2 separate regions of the Homo sapiens genome follow, and region 2 is linked to region 1. Evidence: fine-mapped expression QTL. A gene starts in region 1. The other region holds a variant in brackets. All regions are shown on one strand. Distances are between the middles of the regions.

Region 1 (11,882 bases):
AAAAAGTGACATGATCAAATGACTATCTAGAAAGATCACTCTGGAAGCAACGCAATGGAAGAAATGTAGGCAAAGTTGACAAAAACACTAAAGGTGTTTCCTCAGCAATTGGATTTTTAAAAAAACACACCAACAAGATCATTTCTATAATGCAACTACTCAGTTTAAATGAGTGACATGAGACTCTCTTAAGTTCTGATAAACAAAGAAAGGAGTTTAAGATGCACTATAAACCATGTAGTGAATAAAGACAGAAATTGATATTACGGGGAAGAAAAGGCATAATAGAACACTAACACAATTATTTTGACTCTTAAATTTAGTAATGCTTACCTTTAACTATTCAAGAGCAAACAAGAGACCGAACATAACAAGATACGTCATGTGTGGCCCACAACAAAAAAACAACTTATATGACATATCCACAAACACAGCTTTCACATAATTTATAAAGATTTTTTAAAATAAACTGACCTAATAAATTTGTTTCCAGAAAAAATTATGGTATTATAGTTACTTTGACCCTTCTAGAAAAAAAAAGGTCCCAGAAAGTTTTTTCACTAATTGCGTAACCTGCTTTAGCCTTCTAAAACTCAGACCCAAAGTTCCTGTTCTCCATCTAATATTACCTTGAATCTTAAATACGCAAAGTAAAATGTCCTCTGAAACAGCGGTCCCCAACCTTTTTGGCAACAGGGACGTTTTTCCAGACAATTTTTCCAGAGGGTAGGGGGGCAGAGATGGTTTGGGGATGAAACTGTTCCACCTCAGATCATCAGGCATTAGATTCTCATAAGGACGGACAACCCGGATCCCTCTCATGAGCAGTTCACAATAGGGTTCAAGCTCCTATGAGAATCTAATGAAGCTGCTGATCTGACAGGAGGAGGTGCTCACACAGTAATGCTGGCTGGCCAGCCACTCACCTCCTGCTGTGCACCCTGGTTCCAAACAGGCCATGATGGTCCAGGGGTTAGAGACCCCTGCTCTAAAAGAAAGAAAACTGGCTGGGCACAGTTGGCTCACACCTGTAATCCCAGCACTTTGGGAGGCCAAGGCAGGTGGATCACTTGAGTCCAGGAGTTTGAGATGAGCCTGGACAACAGAGTGAAACACTGTCTCTACAAAAAGTACAAAAATTAGCTGGATATGGTGGCACGTGCCTATAGTCTCAGCTACTCAGCAGGCTGAGGTGAGAGGATCGCCTGAGCCCAGGAGACGTAGGCTGCAATAAGCTAAGATCACACCACTGCACCCTACCCTGGGAGACATAGTGAGATCCTGTCTTGAAAAGAGAAAAGAAAGGGAAAGCGAAGGGCAGCAGGAGACTGCTGAGTGGGAAAACACAGCTCTAGTCTTTAAGCTCTTCTTTAACCTATTTCTCTCCGTGGCCTTTTCAAGAAACTCATCAGGGATATACACTCTGCATCACCATACACACATCTCCTTAACTCATTTTTTTTTTCATTTTAAACGGTCTTCATCTAATGCAAGTTACTACAAAAGACGCTATTCAAAGAAACCAAGCGGTATTCTCACGGTATTACAACGAAGTCTAAACTATTTATTTGTATAGTATATTTACAGAGTGCCTTTCCCTCAAAATAATCACAGCATTTGATGACTACAGGCACATTAAGCAAATATAACAATGCTGAGTCTCAAGTCATTCAGAAAGAAAAAAAAAGTCCAAATAATTGAACTAGCTTCCAAACTATTTTATAATATTTGGTGCCTTGATTAGACTAGTACTAGAAGAGTAAACAGCCCTCTGCAACAGCTTGTTCTAGCTCCCTGAATTAAAATCTGCATATTGTACTGTCAGCAAAAATATCCCAGCTAACATTGGTGATTCTGGGTAAGTTCAATCCAACAATATTCAGCTAGTGTGCCCAATCAGAGTGTCTCAGATCTCATTTTAATTCTACTGTAAAAGGAAGAAATATGACAAGGAGAGGATTTTCATGCATTTCTTTTATGCACACTTGTTCTACCATATATTCAATCAGTACCAACTACCCTAATAGTCCCCTTTGAAATGACTGGATTAGTATACTCCTTTCTAGGGTCTCCTTCCCTCTCCATTCAAAATAATTCATACTCACTTAAGAAATAAAGAGCAAAGGCAGTTATGGGGAAAAGAAGAAAAAACAGAGCTAGCGTGGGACAGTCAAGAATTCATGATGGAAGAGGGAAATAATCTATTAATGTTTAACAATGTTAGTAAAATCCTAATTTGCAAACCAAATTAAGTTTTACAAGTGAAGTATGCTAAAATGAACTACCAACCAGTAACCAATACAAATACAAAGCATAGTCTGAGTGTATGACAATTTATTAAATATATTAAATTACGTAAGCATATATGCTGAATAAGTTTTAGCCATAAGCAGTAGATTATATTGAATTCCCATATCAACAAATGTATATAAAAAGGGAAGTGTTTGGTTACATGAGATATGCAATTCGCAGCACAATAAGGAAAGGTTTCTGTTGAAAAAGAATGGCAGAAGCAATTTGGCTAAGAGAAGAAAATAACTATTATAATTGTGAAAGATGATGTTCCATTTCTTAAACTGGGTAAAAGGCATGTAAGTGTTGGCTGCATTGTGAAGTCTTTATATTTTACACATTTTTATAAATACTTTGTCATATGTGGTCAATATCTTATAAAACAATGTTTAAGTGTGAGAAAAATCTGAACAAACATTTGTTGACATTAGAGGTAAAATGTACATAGGCATCTAATCCATTTGTGCTAATTATGGTAGTTTTTAATATAAATGAAAAAGAGGTCATAAAAATATGAGTAGGAAGAAAAATATTGTAATTTATCCTTAATTTCCCTACAGAAAATAAGCAGTAAAGGTTTACTGGTGCTCTTAAAAAGGCTGTGTGTGTGTGTATGAATGTGTATTTATATACACACACACACACACACACTATATTAAACTACTTGAAATTAACTTTTTACCTCTGAAGTTCCCTTCAAACCAACCACCATCACAAATATTTCCTTAACCACATAAAAAGTACTAATACTCCTCTACGCATAATCCCAGAAATAAGTTAAAAAACAAATTCCTAAAGAGAAATGTTCACACTGCAAATAACTGTATCTTTTGTATATATGCAGACTTAACATCTATGTGAGTTGTCCAGGTTTATCCACATCTATTGTACTTGCTTTATGATGGGCACATGCATTTTAATTATGCCTTGCCAATACTACCTTGAGTGAGAGGGCAATATAGCATATTGATGAGGAGCACAGGTTCTGGAGCTAGCATTCCTAAATGGAAACTTAGCTCTTCTACTTCTCAGCTATATAGTATTGGGCAAGTTATTTAACCTCTCTGTGTTTCAGATTCTCATCTGTAAAACAGAAATAACAACACATACCTCATAGGGTGTTGGAACTGATTAAAACAACGTACAACGGGACTGGCAAAGAATAGGTGCTACATAAATGTGAGCTGTTACTACTAGTACAGCTGGCCCTTGAACAACATGGGCTTAAACTGTGCTGGTCTACTCCTATGCAGATTTTTTTCAAGCAATACAGTATTCATGGGATGCAAAAACCGAGTATATTGAGGGCCGACTTTTCCCTATACATGGTTCCATACACCAACTGCGGGATTTGAGCATGCAAGGATTTTGGCATATGTGGGGGTCCTGGAACCAATCCCCTGCATACAATAAGGGAAGAATGTAGTAGTAATTGTATTGCACCCTCTTCCTGAAAGTACCAAAAACATTCTTAAGCAATCTGAATTCCTAACATCAAATGCTACCTATATTTAAAATAGACACCAAATCTGAGGCCTGATTAACAGTAAGTTTAAAGCCCTTCAACTCTGAAGAAAATAGGTGATTCACAGATCTACATAATACTCTATCAAGAACAATCTGAGAGGACTGGTTCCCCGAGCGCAACTATCAATTTCTTCCCTTACACAAGGGGGCAGTGATAACAAGAAAAGAATCGGGCTCTGTAACACCTCTTCCTACAGACAGTAGGGGGTGGCAGTACATATGGCTTACAGTCAGAACAAAACAGGAAGACCCAACAGAATTCTCTTTATTCTCCTCTGGCCCTTTCCTCTGTTCTTCAGCCCCAACAGCTTCTCAAGGTAAGGGACATATCTACAGAAAAGACTAAAACCCAAAATCAATCACCAAGGAAAATCTATTTTTGTCTTTGAAGCAAATGATCCCTCAATGGCTGAATTTGGATCTAAGGGAAAGCCAATCAGTATGAATTTTCAGATTATCTGGCAAATTACTATAATGAGAACAGCATTCACACATGTAATTTAATTTCTTTACAAGAATTATAACATAAAACATTAAAATCTCATCAATAATTAAGTACATTCTAACGAACACATTTCCATATTTCTGCTTTTGTTATATAGTATATTCACACTCATTGTATGTATACATATAAGTTACATTAAATAGATCATGGAGTTGTCTTTTGTTACTTCTGAAATTCCAGCTATGTTCTGACAATCCTCTCGAAACAGATGTTCTTAAATGGAAGTCACAATGTTTTGCAGCATGTTGGTAATTTCTTATGTATGTATAATATACATGCACATATATCTATATAGAGACATAAATAAATATCTAGATACAGAGGGGAGCAAGAGAGAGGGAGAAAGAGAATGTTTAACGTTTTATTTCGTGCTCACATCCCTAAGAGGATCTACCTGGGAAATGCTGCAAGAAGCACTCCACTGACAGTATCCATGTTGTTGCTTTTTATGCCAATTTACTGTATTCTTTTTTTTTTTTATTTCACCATCCCAACACCAAGAACATACAAGAATATTTTAGTACTGCCGTTCTCTATAATTAACCATTGTGATAGATACTGGCTCCAACCCCTCAAAATGCCTGAAAATCTATCCCTTTTGTTCACCACACTGCTTTGTTTTCCTCATTACAGATATTTTCACCTGTGTAAAAATCAGGAAAAGGGCACATACGAAAAATACTTCCCTTTGCCTAATGATCTTTAACTCATAATTATGGTCAAGACGTTTGGGGTTTTGTTTGTTTCTTTTCCTGGAGAGGAGCAGAGAAGAGAGTGAAAGACACCCGAAACACCAAATCTTCTTCCTAATGTTAATTATCATTGTTTATGTTTTGTGAAGACCATTCTAAACATTCCACACCTGGAAATGAAGACTGGATACAATTGTACCAATGCTCTACACGCTGATGGCAAAACCTGGAATTATTTTAGCCCTATTTTTTCTTTCCAATCTCACAGCCAGACACAATTTGCTTTTTTTCTTTCACGTGGTTACTTTCTCTACCTCAAAAAAAATAGCTTATCATAGCTCCTCCCGATTTCCTATGGCAAAATATCTAGCAATGAGCCTTATTAATCTTTTATTATGCTACACCTCCTTTCCCAGAGGAATTATTAATATCGCTAATAACACTTCGACCATGAATTTCAACGCCACAGAGGCCAGCCCATCCTGTGCCTTACCTGGCACATTTCGCAACTACTTTTATGCTGCATTCTGGGGGCACATTTTGCAACTCGTTCTGCACCACATTCCCTGCCACGTTTAGCAATCCGCCTCGCATCTTATCCTTGGTCCCCGTCATCCAGAGACGCTCTAGGTACCAAATTCCATGACATCTTCGGTGACAGCCAAGTGGCGACCCCACACGCCTCTGAAGCCCGCCTTGGTGTCATATTCGGAGCCAGCCTTCCCCACGCCTTGGACACCGAGGCACTTCGCTGCCCATTTCGCCGTCTCCCCGCTCGCCCCCGCCCCTCTCCCCGGAGCCGAGGCTGTGGAGGCGAACGACCCTGTCACTGAAGCGACCTTTCCTCGCCCTGCTCCCCGGGCCCCTTACCTGCCGCTCTGAGGGGCTCTCTGCACCTCCGGGTCAAGCCCCAGTCCCCGGGGTCTCCTGTGAGGACCGCGCCGCCCGCCGGCGCCGCCCGCGATTCCCGGAGCACCTCGCAGTCCTCCAACGCCCCGCGGCGAGTCTGCACCCCGGAACGGCGCGGCGGGGCCTCGCAGCCGGCGAGCGCAGCCCGCGGCGGTGCTCCTGTCAGCGGCGGCTCGGGGGCCAGCTCTCGCCCCTCGGCTCGGCTCGGCGGCGGCGGGCGCCTCGCTCCGCCTAGCGCGCGGCACAGCCGGGAGGTGAGCGCGAGGGGGATGGGAATGGGGGCGGGGCCGCCCGAAGGAGGCGCGGAGGGCGGTGGCGGCGGGAGGGCAGCGCCAGCGGCCCTAGGCCGGGCGCTCGGAGCGCTCGCAGCTTCCCCCGCCGGGCGGGCGGCTCGCGCGAGGCGGCTGTGCCAGCGGGCCCCGCCGGAGCAGCGCGCCCAGCAACCCGCGCCCCGCCGGCCGCTCGCTAGCGCCGCCGCCGCGCTGGGGGCGTCGCACCCTCTGAGGCCGCCCGCAGCCCCGCCCCCTCCGGGCTGGGGTGGGGAGGGGCGCGAGCGCGGAGGGAGCGCGCGTGCGTGGGGGCGCGTGCGTGGTGGAGCGCGCGCGCCCCCGCCCCTTCCACAGTTTGGGGGTGGGGAACGGCTGGAAGAGGGAGTGGGGACGCAGCCCTCCTCCGCGCGGAGAGACGGGGCCCTGGCTCTGGCGCTCTGGGATGTCCTGGCATTTCTCGTATCCCCGGGGGGCTCGGACTTGTGGGTGGCATTTGGAGGGGCAGCAGGGAGGACGCTCGGTAACTGACAAGGCCCTACATAGTTGGGCTCCGCCCTCAGGGGTGATGTCACTCTCGAGGTGGCTGCTGCTGTCACGTGCGCCCATTTCAGGGCCTGTCCTCCTGCTTTGATGACCGGAATGCTCTCCTAGATCTCCCCCACTTCGGTCACCTCAGGCACATATCACTCTGAGAGTCCTCGAAGCCTACAAGTGTCAGTTATTCTTTCCCGGATTCTCAGTGGTAGTTTGTAGACGACTTCAAAAGGCCACGGTTGGCTGTGGGGAGAATCAGAATGAGAAAGAAAAACAAAACAACAGTGGGGTTTGTGGGGAGACCGAGACTGTTATTTAGAATAATGGCTGAAAATTCACCAACCACAGCTTGCAAACCTGAGGTAAAGTCGTGGCGCTGCTTCTGTCACTGCCAGGTTGACTAAGAAGTAGCGTGGTTTTAAGAGCTGGTCGACAAGGGCGGGAAAGCCACCACATTAATACCTCGTCGAACGATGTTAGGTCATATTTCACCCTCCACCTAGATCTTCTTCCCCTCTACTGTTTCCCTCCTATCATAAAACAGCAAGTCGGCTGTGGGAGGTATTTGGGACATAAACATCATCGCGTGCTGCAAGATGATGCGAAGCAATCACCGTTACCAACTCTGCCCGGCTCGCCTTCCCTTCCATAAACTGAGATGACCTTTCGTGGTCATCCAACTTCTTAATCAGATGACATGATTGGAAATAGATGCGCCAAATTACATCAATCAAGGAAGCTCTGTCTGTGGCGCTTCCAAGGTAGAGAGGTTTGTTTGATAACAGCACTTTAATCTGCCCCATCCTGTAGCACTTCATCCAGGAGTTTCTTCGATTTTCAAAAATTAGTATTAATTTCAGAACAATACAAGAAACTGGATATGAACATGTCCATCCAACAGCTCTTCTTTACAGTGAATGCTTGCAAAGTCAGAGCTAGAGCAGCTTTGAATAATACAGCTAACATGGCAAGGTGAAGGGCTGACATATGGAATCTTTTGGTGTTAACTCCAGAAAGTTAGATTAATCTAATGAAAACCCATCTACCTATGGTATTAGAGGCAAGGTAGTGATTACTTACAGGGGAATTGATTGAGAGGGGACAGGAGAGAGCCTTCTGGTTTGCTGGAAATATTCAATATCTTAATGGTTACCCGGGTGTATACATATGCAAAAAGATCTGTGCACTTCATGTCAGTTTTTTAAAATCACATACACACAAAGAAGCATTACAATGTCATCATCACTGCAGTCGGAAAACCTCAGTTTGAATCTCAGTGTCACCCAACACTTACCTGCTGTGTGACCTTGAACAGGTCTCCGGACCTTCCTTTCTTCATCTGTCTAACGTGGGTGATATTAATACTTACCTCACAGATGGATGTAAAGATGAAACAAAATTTTGGAAAATACTTAGCACAAATCCTGTTACACAATAAGGACTCAGGAAACAGGAGCTATTATGTTATCCTTCTTACACTTGAATTTACCCTATTTAATTCTCCTTCGGTCTTTTTTTTTTTTTTTTTTAAGATTACTTTCTATCTAAGCCTTTCCCTGCGAGTTCCACTGAGGCTAATAACATTCCTTCTCTGAGAAATAACAAAAGGCAGTCAGGGGTGTAATGTTGGTTTTCAAACTAGTTCAGGTGGCAGTCTCTAGAAATTATGGTGCTCAACGTGGAGCATCATGAAATACAGATAGATTTAACTCTGCCATATGGAATTGACACAATTTTACAAGCACTAAATCTGGCAATTTTATGGTTATGCAAATCTCCACATAATCACATAATAAAAAAATGGGGGCTTTTTGTTGTTGTTGTTGTTCTTTTTTTTTGAGATAGAGTCTCGACCTGTCACCCAGGCTGGAGTGCAGTGGTGCCATCTCGGCTCACTGCAACCTCCGCCTCCCGAGTTCAAGCGATTTTTGTGCCTCAGCCTCCTTCCCAAGTAGCTGGGATTACAAGCACACACCACCACCCCTGGCTAATTTTTGTATTTTAGGTACAGATGGGGTTTTGCCATGTTGACCAGGCTGGTCTCGAACTCTTGACCTCATGTGATCCACCCAACTTGGCCTCCAAAAGTGCCAGGATTACAGGCGTGAACCACTGTGTCCAGCCAAAAAATAATGTGTTTTTAAGAAATAATATGTCTGTGTTTTTCTCTTTAAATTTATTTGCAACTTTTTTACAAGGTAGGAAGTACCAAAAAATTAATAATAATTCACAAAATGAAAACCTTTAAACCCATTTTTCCTGGAAATTAGAAAAACACTGTAATTGTTCAATTTTAGCAACAGAGCTCTTTATTGGATTTACCCACAGTAAGATCTGATAGCTGTAACCCACATGGTCCCCTGCGCTGATAAAGTGAGTAACTCTGACTCACTGTCCTCACCATACTTCCAAAGATCAGTCACCACTTCTTTTAGCCAACCTTTCCCAAATCCCATTTTCATGTGGGCAGTGTCCAGGAATGAACTCACTGCTTCGCTCTTTTGATCATCCACCATCCTTCTATTCTGCCAATTCTCTTCCAGGTCGTTCTACTGTCCAGTCTTATAATTTGTTGCCACACTCTAACTTTGAGGAGGAAACAATATGTCCCTGACAGAGTTGTGAGTGGGGTATAGTAGGGACAGAGAGCAACATTGCAGCAAGAAGCCACCTCTGTTCTCAACTCCTCTCCCTGATTCCCTTTTCTGTCACTATTACCTGAAATCCTGAGAATACTAATTTTATTACCTACTAAAAATCCATTCTAGTAAAGATGTTAGTCTATAACTTAAATTTGGAAATGTAACGTATGCCGTGTAATAAGAACCTGCAAATAATTGTTCATAATGTAGCCCATCCTTGCCCTATACCTCCCAACATTTTAGCATCATCTGTATCATTCAAAATGCCCTTTCTTGCCCTTTCAACTCTGCACTATCACCCACCTCTGCATATGGTGTCTTCCCTGGCTACCTCTAAGTCTCTCTTTCTTTCTTTCTTTCTTTCTTTCTTTCTTTCTTTCTTTCTTTCTTTCTTTCTTTCCTTCTCTTCCTTCCTTTCTTTCTTTCCTTCTTTTTTGACACAGGGTCTCACCCTCATCACTCAGGCTGGAGTGCAGTGGCACCATCATGGCTCACTGCAGCCTCTATTTCTCAGACTCAGGTGACCTTTCCACATCAGCCCCCTGAGTAGCTGAGACCAAAGGTGCATGTCACCATGCCCAGCTAATTTTTTATATTGTTATAGAGATGGAGTCTCGCTATGTTGCCCAGGCTGGTCTCGAACTCCTGGGCTCAAGCAATCCGCCTGCCTCAGCCTCCCAAAGTGCTGGGATTACAGGCATGAGCCACTGTGCCCAGCCCTCTATGTCTCTTAAGTAAACCATCAGGTTCACCTTTTTCTACCCTTTTCCCTCAACTCTCTCTCCCTAAATAAAAAGTCATACCACCCACCACTGAGTGATCACCTACTGGCAGCAAATATTTCACCAGCTACTTTATATGCACAACCTCATTTAATTCCCACAACATCCTATCAGATAAGTATTATCTTAATTTTTTGGATGAGGGGGGTTCTGAGAGGTTAAATAACCAGCCCAATTTTACACTGAATGATGCGTAGAGCCAAAAACTGAACCTAGACATAAACTTTATTCTCTATCAGTTACCCTGAGGAGATTGCCATATAAAGTGTAAAGGAGAACAAAGATTACATATTTTTTAAATGTGGGTTGCCAGTTGCTCATGCCTGTAATCCCAGAGTCTCAGAAGACTGAGACAGGAGGATCACTTGAGGCCAGGAGTTCGAGGCCACAGTGAGCTATAATTGCACCACTGCACTCCAGCTGGGGCAACAGAGTAAGACCCCCCACTAAAAAAAAAAAAAGTGAGCCATGTCACACAATGGAAGCATTTCTGAAAGGTTGATGTAAATGAGATTTTTGTCATTGATTGTTTTTCATAATCTCATTTCTTGTTGATCTGTAATTAATGACTTACCCAATAGCTTCAACATTTTCCCCACCAACTCTACCTCAGCCTTTTGATGAATATTTAATATTTCTAGATGAACACTTAAAAACATTTCCACATAGAGGAGCTACTACTTAAAAGAAGTTTCTAGTAAATCCCTTTTTTGTAAAATGAAAAATGCATGTAAAATGTGAATAAACAAATGCTCATATATTTTTACATTGACATTTATAAATGTTTGACAAGTATTTGCACCTACTGTTCGTATATAGCTGTGATAAGTGCCATAGGGCATATAGAATTGATTTGAGGAAAGTCTTGCCTACTTAACTGTCATAATCTATTTGAGAAACAGAATGCTTAAAACATTTAAATATATAATATAGCATATTATAGAATTAAGTCTGAACATGAATAAAACAGCAAGTTCTGTAATTAATTACAAGAAGGAGGGATACAAGTTTGACTGGGATGGTATAGAACTGCTTCTTGAGAAAAGCAGAATAGAAAAAAGAAATGGTTGGAAAGAAGGAAGGAAGGGCCCTGAGAGCTCAACGAAAGTCCAGAGGAGGGAATGAATACGACAACCTCTTAAGTCAAAGAATGGATCTCTTTTAAAGATGAGTTGCTTTCTTAATAAAGACATGAACTCAGCTGCCATTAGGACACGTTCTCTCTCTCATTTCTGACCTTTTGTATTAGGCTCTCTCTCTCTTCTCATTCTACATTTGAGCATTTTCTCTGTTTCTCAGGCTCATGTGTTGTAAAATACATCAGCTAACAGCATTCACAGATTTAGCTAGTAAGGAGAGACTGACTTGATTCTCTGGATATAGAGTACAAAAATTCCAGGAAGGGCTCTGATTGGCCCAGCTTGGATCAAGAGCTCTCTTGCAGCCAATTCCAGGGGTGTACATTATAAATTGTGCAACATGTGTTTAAGTATGAATGCATTTATTTTTTCTGAAGAGGGAATCCATTGGTTCCATTAGATTCTCAAAGGAAGGGATTTGTAACTCAAAAGTAGCAAAGAGCTACTACAAATACAAAATATGCCAAAACCATCTCTCATTCTTCTCTCCCAAAGCAGCCCTTCTGACTCCCCTGCTCTGTCACTGATACTCCAGTCTTCTAGACTGCTAGACTTGTTACCTTGTTGTGTTTTGATACTTCTCTGTTCTTT
Region 2 (11,882 bases), 92 kb after region 1:
ACATCCACTTTCATTTCTGTTGGGCAAATACCTAGGTGTGGAATTGGAAACTAAGGCCATAGGGCAGGTGCACGTTCAAATTTATGAGAAACTACTACTGTTTTCCAAAGTGGTTGTACCATTTCACACTTCTATCAACAATGTATGAGAGTTCCAGTTGCTTCTGCAGGAGCAGAAAATCTCTACCCCCATCCTCTTAGGGTCCCTGTTGGGTCTGAGAATTAAACTGACTTAAGATGGATAAAGAGGAGAAAGGCATAATAAAAGTTTTATGTGGCACAAGAGTCCTCAGAAAGAAACAAAGACCTGAGGAAGAAGTTAGAGTCAGTTACTTATCTACTGAACTGGACAATAGTTAGTTGTGAAGAAGCAACTAAATTATGTGGGGAGGGTTAAATGATAAGAGTTATTTTGACAAGGTCTGTACAGAATTCTCTTGGTCTCTACTTCTTGTCCTTGAAGATAAGGCTGTTGCCTCTTCTCCTAGAATAGGGAGGGCATCTTCACACAGGAATTTCATCTTCTGCTTTTAAGAAACAGCATGAAGGTCAAAGTGATTTTTTTTCTTTTTTGCATCTGCTATTTTTCAAGTGCCTTTAGCTTAAATAGTTAATATGCCAGGGTAATATATTTTTAACTCTTTCACTCCATATCCTTGCCAAAATTTTGTGTTTGTAATTTTAGCCATCCTAGTAGTTGTGTAGAGATAGCCTGCTGTGGTTCTAATTTGTGTTTCCCTGATAATTAATGATGTTGAACACTTTAAAAAAATATCCTTATGGCCATCTGGATGGCTTCCTTTTGGAAGTGCCTGTTCAAATCTTTTAAAGATTTTTTTTTTAAAAACAGCTTTATTGAGATATAATTCAATTACCACACAATTCACCCATTTAAAGTGTACACTTCGAAGGCTTTTGGTATATTCACAGAGTTGTATATCCATTATTACAATCAACGTTGGAACATTTTCATCACTCCAAAAGAAACCCTGTACTCCGTAGCCATTGCCCCACAAACCCTTCATCATCCTCACCCCTAAGCAACCACAATTCTATTTTCTGTCTCTATATACTTGCCCATTCTGGACATTTCAAAAAATAGAATCGTACAATATGTGGTCCTTTGTGGCTGGCTTCTTTCATTTAGCATAAAGTTTCCAAGGTTCATCCAGATTGTAGTATGTATCAGCATTTAATTTCTTTCTTGCCAAATATTTAATTAAACAGATATAATTTTATTTATCCATTCATCAGTCGATGGAAATTTTGGTTTCCACTTGGTTTTATGGATAATGCTGCTATTAATGTTCATGTACCTTTTTGTGTGTAGATATGTTATCATTTCTCTGTGTATATATCTAGAGCAGAATTGCTGGATCATATGATAACTCTGTTTAGTTGTTTGAGGAACTGAAAGATTGTTTTCCAAAGTGGCTGCACCATTTTACATTCCTACCAGCAGTGTACGAGGGTTCCAATTTCTCCACATCATCACCAACTACCGACACTTGTTATTATGTCTTTTTTATTATAATCACCACCCGTCTAGTGGGTGTCAAGTGCCATCTTACTGTGATTTTGATTTGCATGTTTTCTAATGGACGTTTCTTCCTTCAAATCTTCAGTCTATTTTTAAAAATTGGGTGGCTTGTCTTTTGATGAATGAGCTTCAGTTTCCTCATCGATAAATTGGTGGTAATAATAACTGTGTAGCAGGGTTGTTGTGAGGATTAAATGCAATTAAATGTTAGTGACTTGTGGTTAGGAATCAGGCTTTCACTCATTACCATGGCCAGGGATGTCGGTCTTCTTTCCTGCCTCCAGCCATCCTTAGTAGGGATAGTGTGATCTCAAAAGGCATGAGGTTTGACGTTAGATTCCAGGTAGGAATTTTGGCTTTACTACTTAAAAACTTGTAATCTCAGGCAAGTTATTTAATGTCTCTAAGCCTCAAAGGTAAGGATACCTTACCTCTACCACACTCGACTAATGTGCAGATTAAATCACATGGCTTCTATTTAGTTCTTACCACATCAACTAGCAGATTGGAGATATTCAATATAAACTGTTGTTGCTACAAATGTTTCTTATATATGAGCGACCTCACAAGCCATGAGTAAACAGGGGAATTGGTATAACACAGATGTCATGTGGGTTCCTATGCACTTTTTTCCCCCAGCATGTAAATGTTTTGAAGCCAGGAGCCAGCTTTCTCACAATAACTACCTCTTTAATAAGAGGAAACCTTAGCACTCTATGGAGGCCTTAAGAAAAAGCTGAGAATACACACAGCTGCCTTCTTTAGCTGCAGGGACTGACTGATTTAGTGACTTGGGAACCACTATGCTGTTCTCTTGTCAAGTTTCTGGAAAAACTGAGGGTGCTGTTGAAGAAGCAGTGAAAACGTTTCTCTTTGTATTAGAAGGATGGGTTAGCGAAGAACACCGCTCTTTAAATCAAATGTTTAATTTTGATAAAACTGGTCCCTATTAGAAGCAAATGCCCTCCAGGGCCTATATCTCAAAGCAGCAGGAGGAGCCCTAGGGTTCAAGGCTGGGATGCGGTGTGCAAATGTTTGTGAAAGCTGAGGCTTACTGGGGTAATGTTTCATTAGTTTTGACATTGTTTTTGTGAGTGCTCTGGTTACAATTGCATAGTTTTTTTGTTGTTGTTTTTGTTTTTCATTTTGTTTTGTTTTTGAGACAGGGCCTTGCTCTGTCATCCAGGCTGAAGCGTAGTAGTGTAATCACAGCTCACTGCAGCCTCAACCTCCCCTGGCTCAAGCAATCTTCCTGCCTTAGCCTCCTGGGTAGCTGGGACTGCAAGTGTGTGCCACCATGCCTGGCTAATTGTGTGTGTGTCTGTGTGTGTGTGTGTGTGTGTGTGTGTGTGTGTGTGTGTGTGTGTGTAGACAGGGTCTCATGATGTTGCCCAGGCTGGTCTTGAACTCCTGGGCCCAAGAAATCTTCTGGCCTCACCCTCCCAAGGTGCTGGGATTATAGGCGTAAGCCACTGCACCCAGCCAGGTTTTGAGTAGACTGTCCCAACCCTATTTTTTTTTCCCCACCAACCCTGTTATTTTGGGGCTTGTGGCCATTTTTAGACCATGGAAGCTTTTCAGTAACACACAGATGGTGTTATAGCGAGACATCTATATACATTCCATTTCTCTCTAATGTTTTTTACATACTGTAAAAAATCCAAGCGATCATTGTCAAAGTATAATCTGTAGATACAAGTAGAATAATGAAAACAATGGCTCACATTGATTGTGCACTCTTTCCACATGTTAACTCATTTGATTGTCACAGCAGTCCTCTGAACTAGGGGCTATTACACCCATTTTCTGAATGTGGAAACTGACATCTCTCTGTAAGTAACACGAGTAAATTGAGCTTATGTAACACAGCCAAGGGCACACAGCTAGAAAATGGTGGAGTGAGAATTAAAACCTGTGCTTTTTCTATGATTTAAATTCATACGTCATATTGTTTTGTCATCTAAAAAATATGAATGGGATTATACTTCCATTGTTTCTTTAATGTAACAGGGCTATGCCTTGGTAGAATGCCTAAGTAAAGGAAAGCTGTTAGTGATTCACAGCTATTTACATTTCATAAGTCTCATGTTTCATTCCAAGAAATCAGGCTCATCAATTGTTTGCATTTGGTAACATCTTAATTATACAAATAATTAGCCTTGAGACTAGACATGAACATGAAAGTATAATGAATACTTTTGCTAATTGCTCTGTTCTGTTAGAGGACAGTCATTGGTCTGTAGCATTAACAGCTCCCACATTCAGCTTACTAAATTCTCCTAACTTTCACTTTGGCAAAAGGTCTAAATCAGGGATAACAGATTTCCTCTCTCATGCCTTTTCTAACCCATTGATCATGACTGCTGGGAGCACTGTGTTGAGAAGCTCCTGGGGCCTTCTCTGATGAGTCTGTGCCATTAGTGAGAGAGTACAGGTTGGCAGCAGGTGAGCCAGGTATTTGCCAACTCTGGCCTGAATGTTGAGAAGAGAACTTACCCCAACCTCAGAAGTTTTGGCATCATATTTTCTGCTCCCACTAACAATCCTACAAATATGCTGTGTTCTGTTGGTAGGGGGGTGGGTACAAAAGTGAGACGTGGATTCTGTTTGAATAAAAAAGGCATAAATGGCCTTATACAAAGTAAAACATGTGAAGTGCCCTGACAGTAACAGATACCAGGACAGAAGGGATCAGAGGCGGCAAAGGATTATTTATAGGAACAGGAAGGCAGGAGCAGAGATGGGGCAGAGAATGAATCCAGGGCTCCTTTTGAGGTGGGTCTCAAAAGATAGACAGACATGAGGGTGACAGTGAGGTGAAGTGAGCAGGGCTCAGCTTTTTTCCCATTTTTGGGCAGATGATGAATCACCTGCTATAGCAAGAAAGAAGGAAATGTGCAACAGGAGCGTGTGCAAGGGAAGAGCTTAATGTGGCTGGAATGTCAGAAAATAAAGGAAGGAAAAGTTGGGAAACAAGGGCAGGCCCAGGCTGTGAAGGGCCTGGGAACACCAGATTAGGAATGTTCTAGAACAATGTTTCTCAAGGTGTGTCCACAG[A/G]ATGTTCAGGGTTGTTATATAGCAAAAGGATCCTGTTGGACCCGGGTGTCAACTACATTTGAGAAACATTAAATTAAAAACAATGAAACAGATTTCTATACCTCAGGAGTTGGCAGAGTGTTTAAAATGCACGCTGTACACATTCAGAGCTAATGTACACTGTGAATCCCCAAGAAGGACCTGTAGTTTGCAAAAATCCCAAACACAGTCACCACAGAAATGTTTTCCTTGGAGCACTCACGAGCTGAGCATTGTGCAGGAGCTTTATGAAGGTGATGGCCATCTACTGGTGTGATACCCACAACCAGCATTAGCTGCTAATGGACCAAATGACTGATCTAGGAACCTGCGCTATTGTTGCAGGAATAGGGAGAGAATCGTTTGCCCCAAAGAAAGCATCAAACCCTCTTTTCCTGTTTCCACCCTGGTTCATTATCATAAGGATCTGTCTTCAACTTGCTGACCCTGTGCCCCCTTTTCAGCCATGGCCAGTTGTCCTGTTCTTTCTCCAGAGCTCAGTTCCTACCCTGATAAAACCTTGCCTTCCTTTCAGGCTTCTAGTGGTGCCCTGTTTTGAATCTCCCATCTGTCATCCTGGCTCCCAGACGTGCTGCCTGATGCCCCTTGACCCCTCCCCAGCCCGCCTGGACTCCTTCTTTGCCACTGCTCTGACCTCCACATACTTTGAGTGCTTTTGGTCCTCCTGGTAAACCTCACAATGTCCCGTCTCAAGCCACTCAGAACCCCAGTGTGACTGTGGCTCCAGCTCCTGCCACTTGTTCAGAGACAAAGGCACCTGTGTCTATCTTCTGAGAAGCTGGGCTCATACGTGCCTGATAAACATCCTCCTGCCACCTTTCCAGGTTGTGGTGGTTTCCAGGTGAGTTTCCATAAATCTGCTTGGGAGGGATGAGCAAGTCGCTTCTATATTTGACATGATTTAATTATCCCCTGTGGAAGGAAAAAATTTTAGCAATGACATATTTAGAGCCGCACTTCCAAAGAGCTTCAGTCAACTGGGTAAAATCGGGTGGGATCACACAACAATTTAGGAGTGTAATCTCTAGGCTTTTAGATGTCTGTTCAACAAGAAGCCGACTGTGAGGCCAGGCGCAGTGGCTCACACCTGTAATCCCAGCACTTTGGGGGCCCGAGGCAGGTGGATCATTTGAGGTCAGGAGTTCGAGACCAGCCTGGCCAACATGGTGAAACCCCGTCTCTATTAAAAATACAGAAATTAGCTGGGCATGGTGGTGCACAGCTGTAATGACAGCTACTCGGGAGGCTGAGTCAGGAGACTCACCTGAACCCAGGAAGCAGAGGTTGCAGTGAGCCGAGATCGTGCCACTGCACTTCAGCCTGGACGACCAAGTGAGTGAGACTCTGTCTAAAAAAAAACGAAAAACAAAAAACAAACAAAAAAATACAGACAGAAGCCAACTGGTGAGGTGCAATGAGGTTGGGTGAGTGGGCACAACTTTGGCAGATATACTTCAGTGGGAAATAAGAGTGACAAGGAGAAAAAGTACAAACTATAGAGGACGAGCTGCTGCCACTATGAACCAACGATTGTGACCCAGGAAAGGGACTTGGGACTCATTGCAGAGTGCTCAGGAAAGTGCTCTGGCGCCCAAAGGCGAACCAAGTTTGGGAAATTGTTAGAAAAAGTAAGGGGGTGAGGTAGGGGGGGTTGTAGGGAAAGAAAACATCACTTTACCTTTGTTTCTTTTTTTTTTTTTTTTTGAGACGGACTCTTGCACTGTCGCCCAGGCTGGAGTGCAGTGGCACAATCTCGGCTCAGTGCAACCTCCGCCTCCCGGGTTCAAGCAATTCTCCTGTCTCAGCCTCCCCAGTAGCTGGGACTACAGGTGCCTGCCACCATGCCCGGCTAACCTTTGTTTCTAACACAGACTGGAATGTGCAGTTCTGGTTGATACATTTCAAGAAAGAAAGCAGGGAGTTCACAAAGCATTTCAAGTGATTAAGGGGCTGGAGGGGCTTCTGTATGAGGTCAGGGTGAAGGCTGGAGGTTGACAGGATATACTGCAGTTTCAAGAATTATGAAAAGTACAGATAATGTGAAAATAGACCAAACCCCAGCTTATTAGAATGAAGACGCTGCATGGTCTCACTCATATGTGGAAGCTAAAAAAAAGTTGATCTCACAGAAGTAAAAAGTAGAACAGAGAATACTAGAGGACAGGAAGGGGAGGAGGAAGGGAGGGGTAGGGAGAGATTTGATAAAGGATACAAAATTACAGCTAGGTAGGAGGAGTAAGTTCTATTGTTCTACATCATTGTAAGATGGCTATAGTTAACAATAATATATTATACAGTTTCAAATAGGGAGAGGGAGGATACTGAATGTTACCAACATAGAGAAATGATAAATGTTTGAGATTATGAATATGTTAATTACCCTGATCTGATCATTATACATCATGTGTATCAAAACATCACTAGCTACCCCATGAATACGAACAACTACTATTTGTCAATTTAAACAATTTTTTTAAAGAAGAGGTTTCTTGAGATTTTCTCAAGATTTCAAGCAAGTTAAAAATGGTTGCTAAATGTATGGAACTCATTACCCCCCAAGAGGTAGAATAGGCTAAAAACAGAAATAGCTTCAAAAATTACTTACATAACGTTGTGATGGCTGGCACTAGCATATCATACTGAGGGAAATCTGTTTTAGATGGGATAAGGGAGGACATTCTTCCTAATACACAGCCCTTAGCCTCACTGTCAGCACCAGTGAAGATGTGGGGTTGGACGACGCACGACAGTTTTACTTAAAAAAAAAACAAGCAGGCCAGGTGCAGTGACTCACGCCTGTAATCCCAGCACTTTGGGAAGCCGACGTGGGCAGATCACTTGAGGTCAGGAGCTTGAGACCAACCTGGCCAACATGGTAAAACCCCGTCTCTACTAAAAATACAAAAAAAAAAGGCCGGGCACGGTGGCTCATGCCTGTAATCCCAGCACTTTGGGAGGGTGAGGAGGGAGGATCATGAGGTCAGGAGATTGAAACCATCCTGGCTAACATGGTGAAACCCCATCCCTACTAAAAATACGAAAAACTAGCCAGGCGTGTGGCGGGCACCTGTAGCCCCAGCTACTCAGGAGGCTGAGGCAGGAGAACTGGTTGAACCCAGGAGGCAGAGGTTGAAGTGAGCAGAGATCATGCCACTGTACTCCAGCCTGGGTGACAGAGCAAGACTCCATCTCAAAAAAAAAAAAAAATTAGCCAGGCGTGGTGGCAAACGCCTGTAATCCCAGCTACTCAGGAGGCTGAGGCAGGAGAATCGTTTGAACCCAGGAGGTGGAGGTTGCAGTGAGCTGAGATTGCACTACTGCACTCTAGCATGGCAACAGAGTGTGACTCTATCTCAAAAGAAAAAAAAAAGGAAGATTGTTTATATGAATATGCATGCTATCAGTTATCAGGTGCCTACCTAATATTAGGCACCAGGCTAGGCACTTTTATATACATTATCTTTTATCTTTACATAGTACTAGACGATATAATAATAACCCCATTTCATAGATGAGAAAGTGAAGCTCAGCCAAGTCACTCGCTTGAGGTCACACACAGCCAGTAAATGGGGAGCTGGACTTGAAACCTGTGCCCAGGCTGGAGCGCAATGGCATGATCACGGCTCATTGCAGCCTGGACTTCCCAGGCTCAGGTGATTCTCCCACCTCAGCCTCCTGAGTTACTGGGACTACAGGCATGTGCCACCACGCCTGGCTAATTTTTTGCATTTTCAGTAGAGTCGAGGTTTCGTCACGTTGCCCAGGCTGGTCTCAAACTCTTGGACTCAGGCAATCCACTTGCCTTGGCCTCCCAAAGTGCCGCATTTAACAGGCATGAGCCATCAGGCACGGCCATGTGCATTCTCTTTTTATTATTATTATTATTATCATCATTATTATTGAGACAGAGTCTTGCTCTGTCACCCAGGCTGGAGTGCAGTGGCACAATCTCAGCTCACTGCAACCTCCACCTCCCGGTTTCAAGTGATTCTCCTCCCTCAGCCTCCTGAGTAGCTGGGATTACAGGCGTTTGCCACCACGCCCAGCTAATTTTTGTATTTTTAGTACAGATGGGGTTTCACCATGTTGGCCAGGCTGGTCTCGAACTCCTGACCTCAGGTGATCCACATACCTCTGCCTCCCAAAGTGCTGCGATTACAGGCATGAGCCACCGCACCTGGCCTGCCATACTTTTGATCAATGCAATACTGCCTCTCATCTCACCCGTTTCTTGGGTTTTTCTGTCCCTCATGCCTAAATTTAGTCTAAGGCTACCAGCCAAAATTCCAAAAATGGTGCTTTTGTCCTTTGCTCGTTGCTGAATAAACTGACCTCAGTCATTTATAGGACCAGTACATTTGTTCATATTCCTCAAAAGTCCAAAGTACCCAGCAATGGAGAGGGGGCAGCTGGGTTCCTGAGGCTGAAACAAGAGGGGAAATGGGAGGAGCTAATATCCAGGGCCCAATAGGGGTCAGGCATTTCACACGTTCCGCCATGTAATTCTCATAATACTCACTTAGATTCCCATTCTAGAGTTGAGAAGACCGAGTCCCAGAGAGATTATGTGAAATACCTAAGAACCCATAGTGCATAGACAGCAGACCCAGAATGTGAAGCTGGATCTGTCTCATGCCAAAGTCCCTTGGAAGCCAGGACAGAGCATTCCAACTCTGCTCTCCTTCCTTCTAGGAAGGTCGGCTTACAAATTCCTTCCATTGCCACAACTCCAAAGGGTGCTCTGCCCAACACTTTTGCTGGTGGGGGCCCAGGAGTTCCTTGCTATACAGAAATTTCGGTTGGAATGATATCTGTTGAATGGGTTTTGATCTGTCCCACCCTTTACCTTGTGAAAATTTTTTCTCGTCAGCTGTCATGCTAGCTTTTTTTTTTTTTTTTTTTTAACAAGACAGATATTCTGATTTCTCTAACTTGGGATTTCTCCACTTTGGGATATTGACATCAGGGGCAAGACACTTCTCTGTTGTTGGAGGCCACACTTTGCATTGTAGGATGTTTAGCAACATCCCCGGGTCTCTGCCCACTAGACAGATATTGGTAACATCCCCCTCCCCATCAGTTGTGACAACCAAAAATGTCTGCAGGCCTTGCCAAAGGTCACCTGGGGGGCAAAATCACCTCTAGTTGAAAACCACTGCTGTAACAGTAGAGGGGGTGCTGCATGATCTTTGTGCCCTTGTACCTAAAACTCAACAAGCCAATTCACCCCATCCCGGCCTCCCCAACCCCCTAAGGAATGGAAGCCGAGGAGAGATGACACCTGTGGGTGGAGTCTGGATTTTCTGGTTTGGGAAGGGATGTAGCACACAGATTGCTGGCCCTGTACTTACTTGATGCCCCCACGAGACGTTAAAAATGTAGAGCTTTCCACGTGCAGATGGCTCGAGCTGCTTAATTACCAACCGAAAGCATGCTAACATTTTCCTCTCTCTCTCCTTGCCTAAAACAGCCCGCCAGGAACAGCAGAGGCTTTAACAACAGGGAGCAGTTGCCCTTTCTGCATCCTTATCACACACTAATTATTTTATTCTAAAGAGACAAAGTAGAGAGAATGTAACATATGATTCTGATGACAAACACTTTCTTAAAAAAAAAAAACTGTCGGCTTTTTCTAGTGACTAGAGCATAGGAGCTGGTTGCTAAGCAACTGGGAAACGGCAGACTCCTGTACTGGCCATGCTGGTTTCGGAAATGAGCCATAAAAGGAATTCCCCAGTGAGAAGGGATCCCATACCATTGCCTGGTTGCCATGGACACCATACATAAGTGATGGATCCTGGGTTACAGGCCCTGCTTAAGAAAAATATGTTGCCTCTGTTTAAGGCTTGAATGGTATGAGAACAGCATAGAAGCCCTCTTCCCCTGTGTTATCCATGGGGGCATGTCCCGGTCCCTTCCCCATGGGCTTCCCCCAGAGAGGTCTGAATCTAAGTGGCTGAAACATTCCATCCAATTTCAGCTCTGCTTTTATTTAATGTGTTCCAGGCTTTGCTGGAGTTGGAAAGGAGTCTGCAATCTGGAAAGCAAATTTTTAAGCAAGAAAAGATGCTTCGGGTGGCAGACAGGCTGTCTGTCTATCATCCACCCCTGTTTGGGGGCCACACAGAGCCAAGATCAGGCACAAGGGCAACTCTCTATGTTCACACGTTCTATTGGAGTTTTGCAAAACAAGAGAGATTAGCAGAGAAAAAGACAATAGCCGTGACTCCAAAATGAAATTGGCATGTCATGCAGAGCAAGGCACACAATAAGCCATTACAATTCTGTCAGAAATTAGAAACAGACTTCAGATAATAGGAGTGAAAAATGTGAGGCAAATATAAAGATACGGAACTTAAAATACGAAGTACAGGTTTCACTAGGCTTCCTATGGGAAACAGAACAGGACAGATACGCCTTAACATTATCGACCCTATGCTATGAATAGGACACTTGGGACACTAGACTCCTACCCTAGGTGTCATGAGGATACGGGGGCCCAAAGAATGACAGTAATTTGCTCAAGGCCATAGAAGATAAAATGTTGCTGAATGGTGGTCCATAGAGGACAATTCTGTGTTTTATTTTTTATTTTTGGAGATGGAGTCTCATGCTGTCACCCAGGCTGGAGTGCAGTGGCACAATCTCACCTCACTGCAACCTCTGCCTCCCGGTTCAAGTGATTCTCCTGCCTCAGCCTCCCGAGTAGCTGCGATTACAGGTGCCTGTCACCACGCCTAGCTAATTTTTTGTATTTTTAGTAGAGACAGGGTTTCATCATATTGGTCAGGCTGGTCTCGAACTCCTGACCTCATGATCCGCCCAACTCAGCCTCCCAAGGTGCTGGGATTACAAATGTGAGCCACCGTGCCTGGCCCAATTCTGCCTTTTAAATATCACTGCACAACAAATGACCCCAAAACTTAGCAGCTTAAAACAGCAAACATTTATTATCTCACAGTTTCTGTGGGTCGGGAATCCAGGAGCCTCTTAGCTAGGTGCCTCTGACTTGGGTGTCGGAAGGGCCACAGCATCCCAAGGCTCCTCTGGGGGAGGGTCTGCTCCCAGCCCTGTGCCTGTGGCTGCTGGTGGGCCTCAGATCCTCCCTGGCTGTTGGCTGGAGACTTCAGTTCCTTGCTCTGTTGCTCTCTCAGTCAGAGAGTTTACAACAACATGGCAGCTGGCTTTCCTCAGAGGCAAAAAGCAGCCAAGACAGAAACAGCAGTCTTTTAAAATCTAAGCTAAAA

Which allele goes with the higher level. Alleles are on the strand shown, and positions count from the first base shown. SD is a standard deviation of normalised expression in the study named.
With allele G in place of A in region 2, the expression in monocytes after R848 of the gene that starts at base 6,401 in region 1 is lower (large effect, 0.89 SD a copy in Quach 2016).

Evidence for each region. PIP is the estimated chance that this variant, and not a neighbour inherited with it, causes the effect.
Region 2: its variant is fine-mapped to the expression of TANC2 in monocytes after R848 (Quach 2016, PIP 0.92).

The regions. Positions count from the first base shown.
Region 1 is chr17:62,960,754-62,972,635 of GRCh38, reverse strand. It overlaps TANC2 (tetratricopeptide repeat, ankyrin repeat and coiled-coil containing 2), which reads right to left and starts at 6,401. Exons shown (of 28, transcript NM_001394998.1): 1 at 5,887-6,401. RefSeq lists a silencer at 6,325-6,514.
Region 2 is chr17:62,868,863-62,880,744 of GRCh38, reverse strand. No RefSeq gene overlaps it. Among named protein-coding and RNA genes, the nearest start is that of MARCHF10-DT, 66 kb to the right of the region's middle. RefSeq lists enhancers at 11,200-11,699, 11,700-11,882. The variant A/G (reference allele first, on the strand shown) is at 4,597.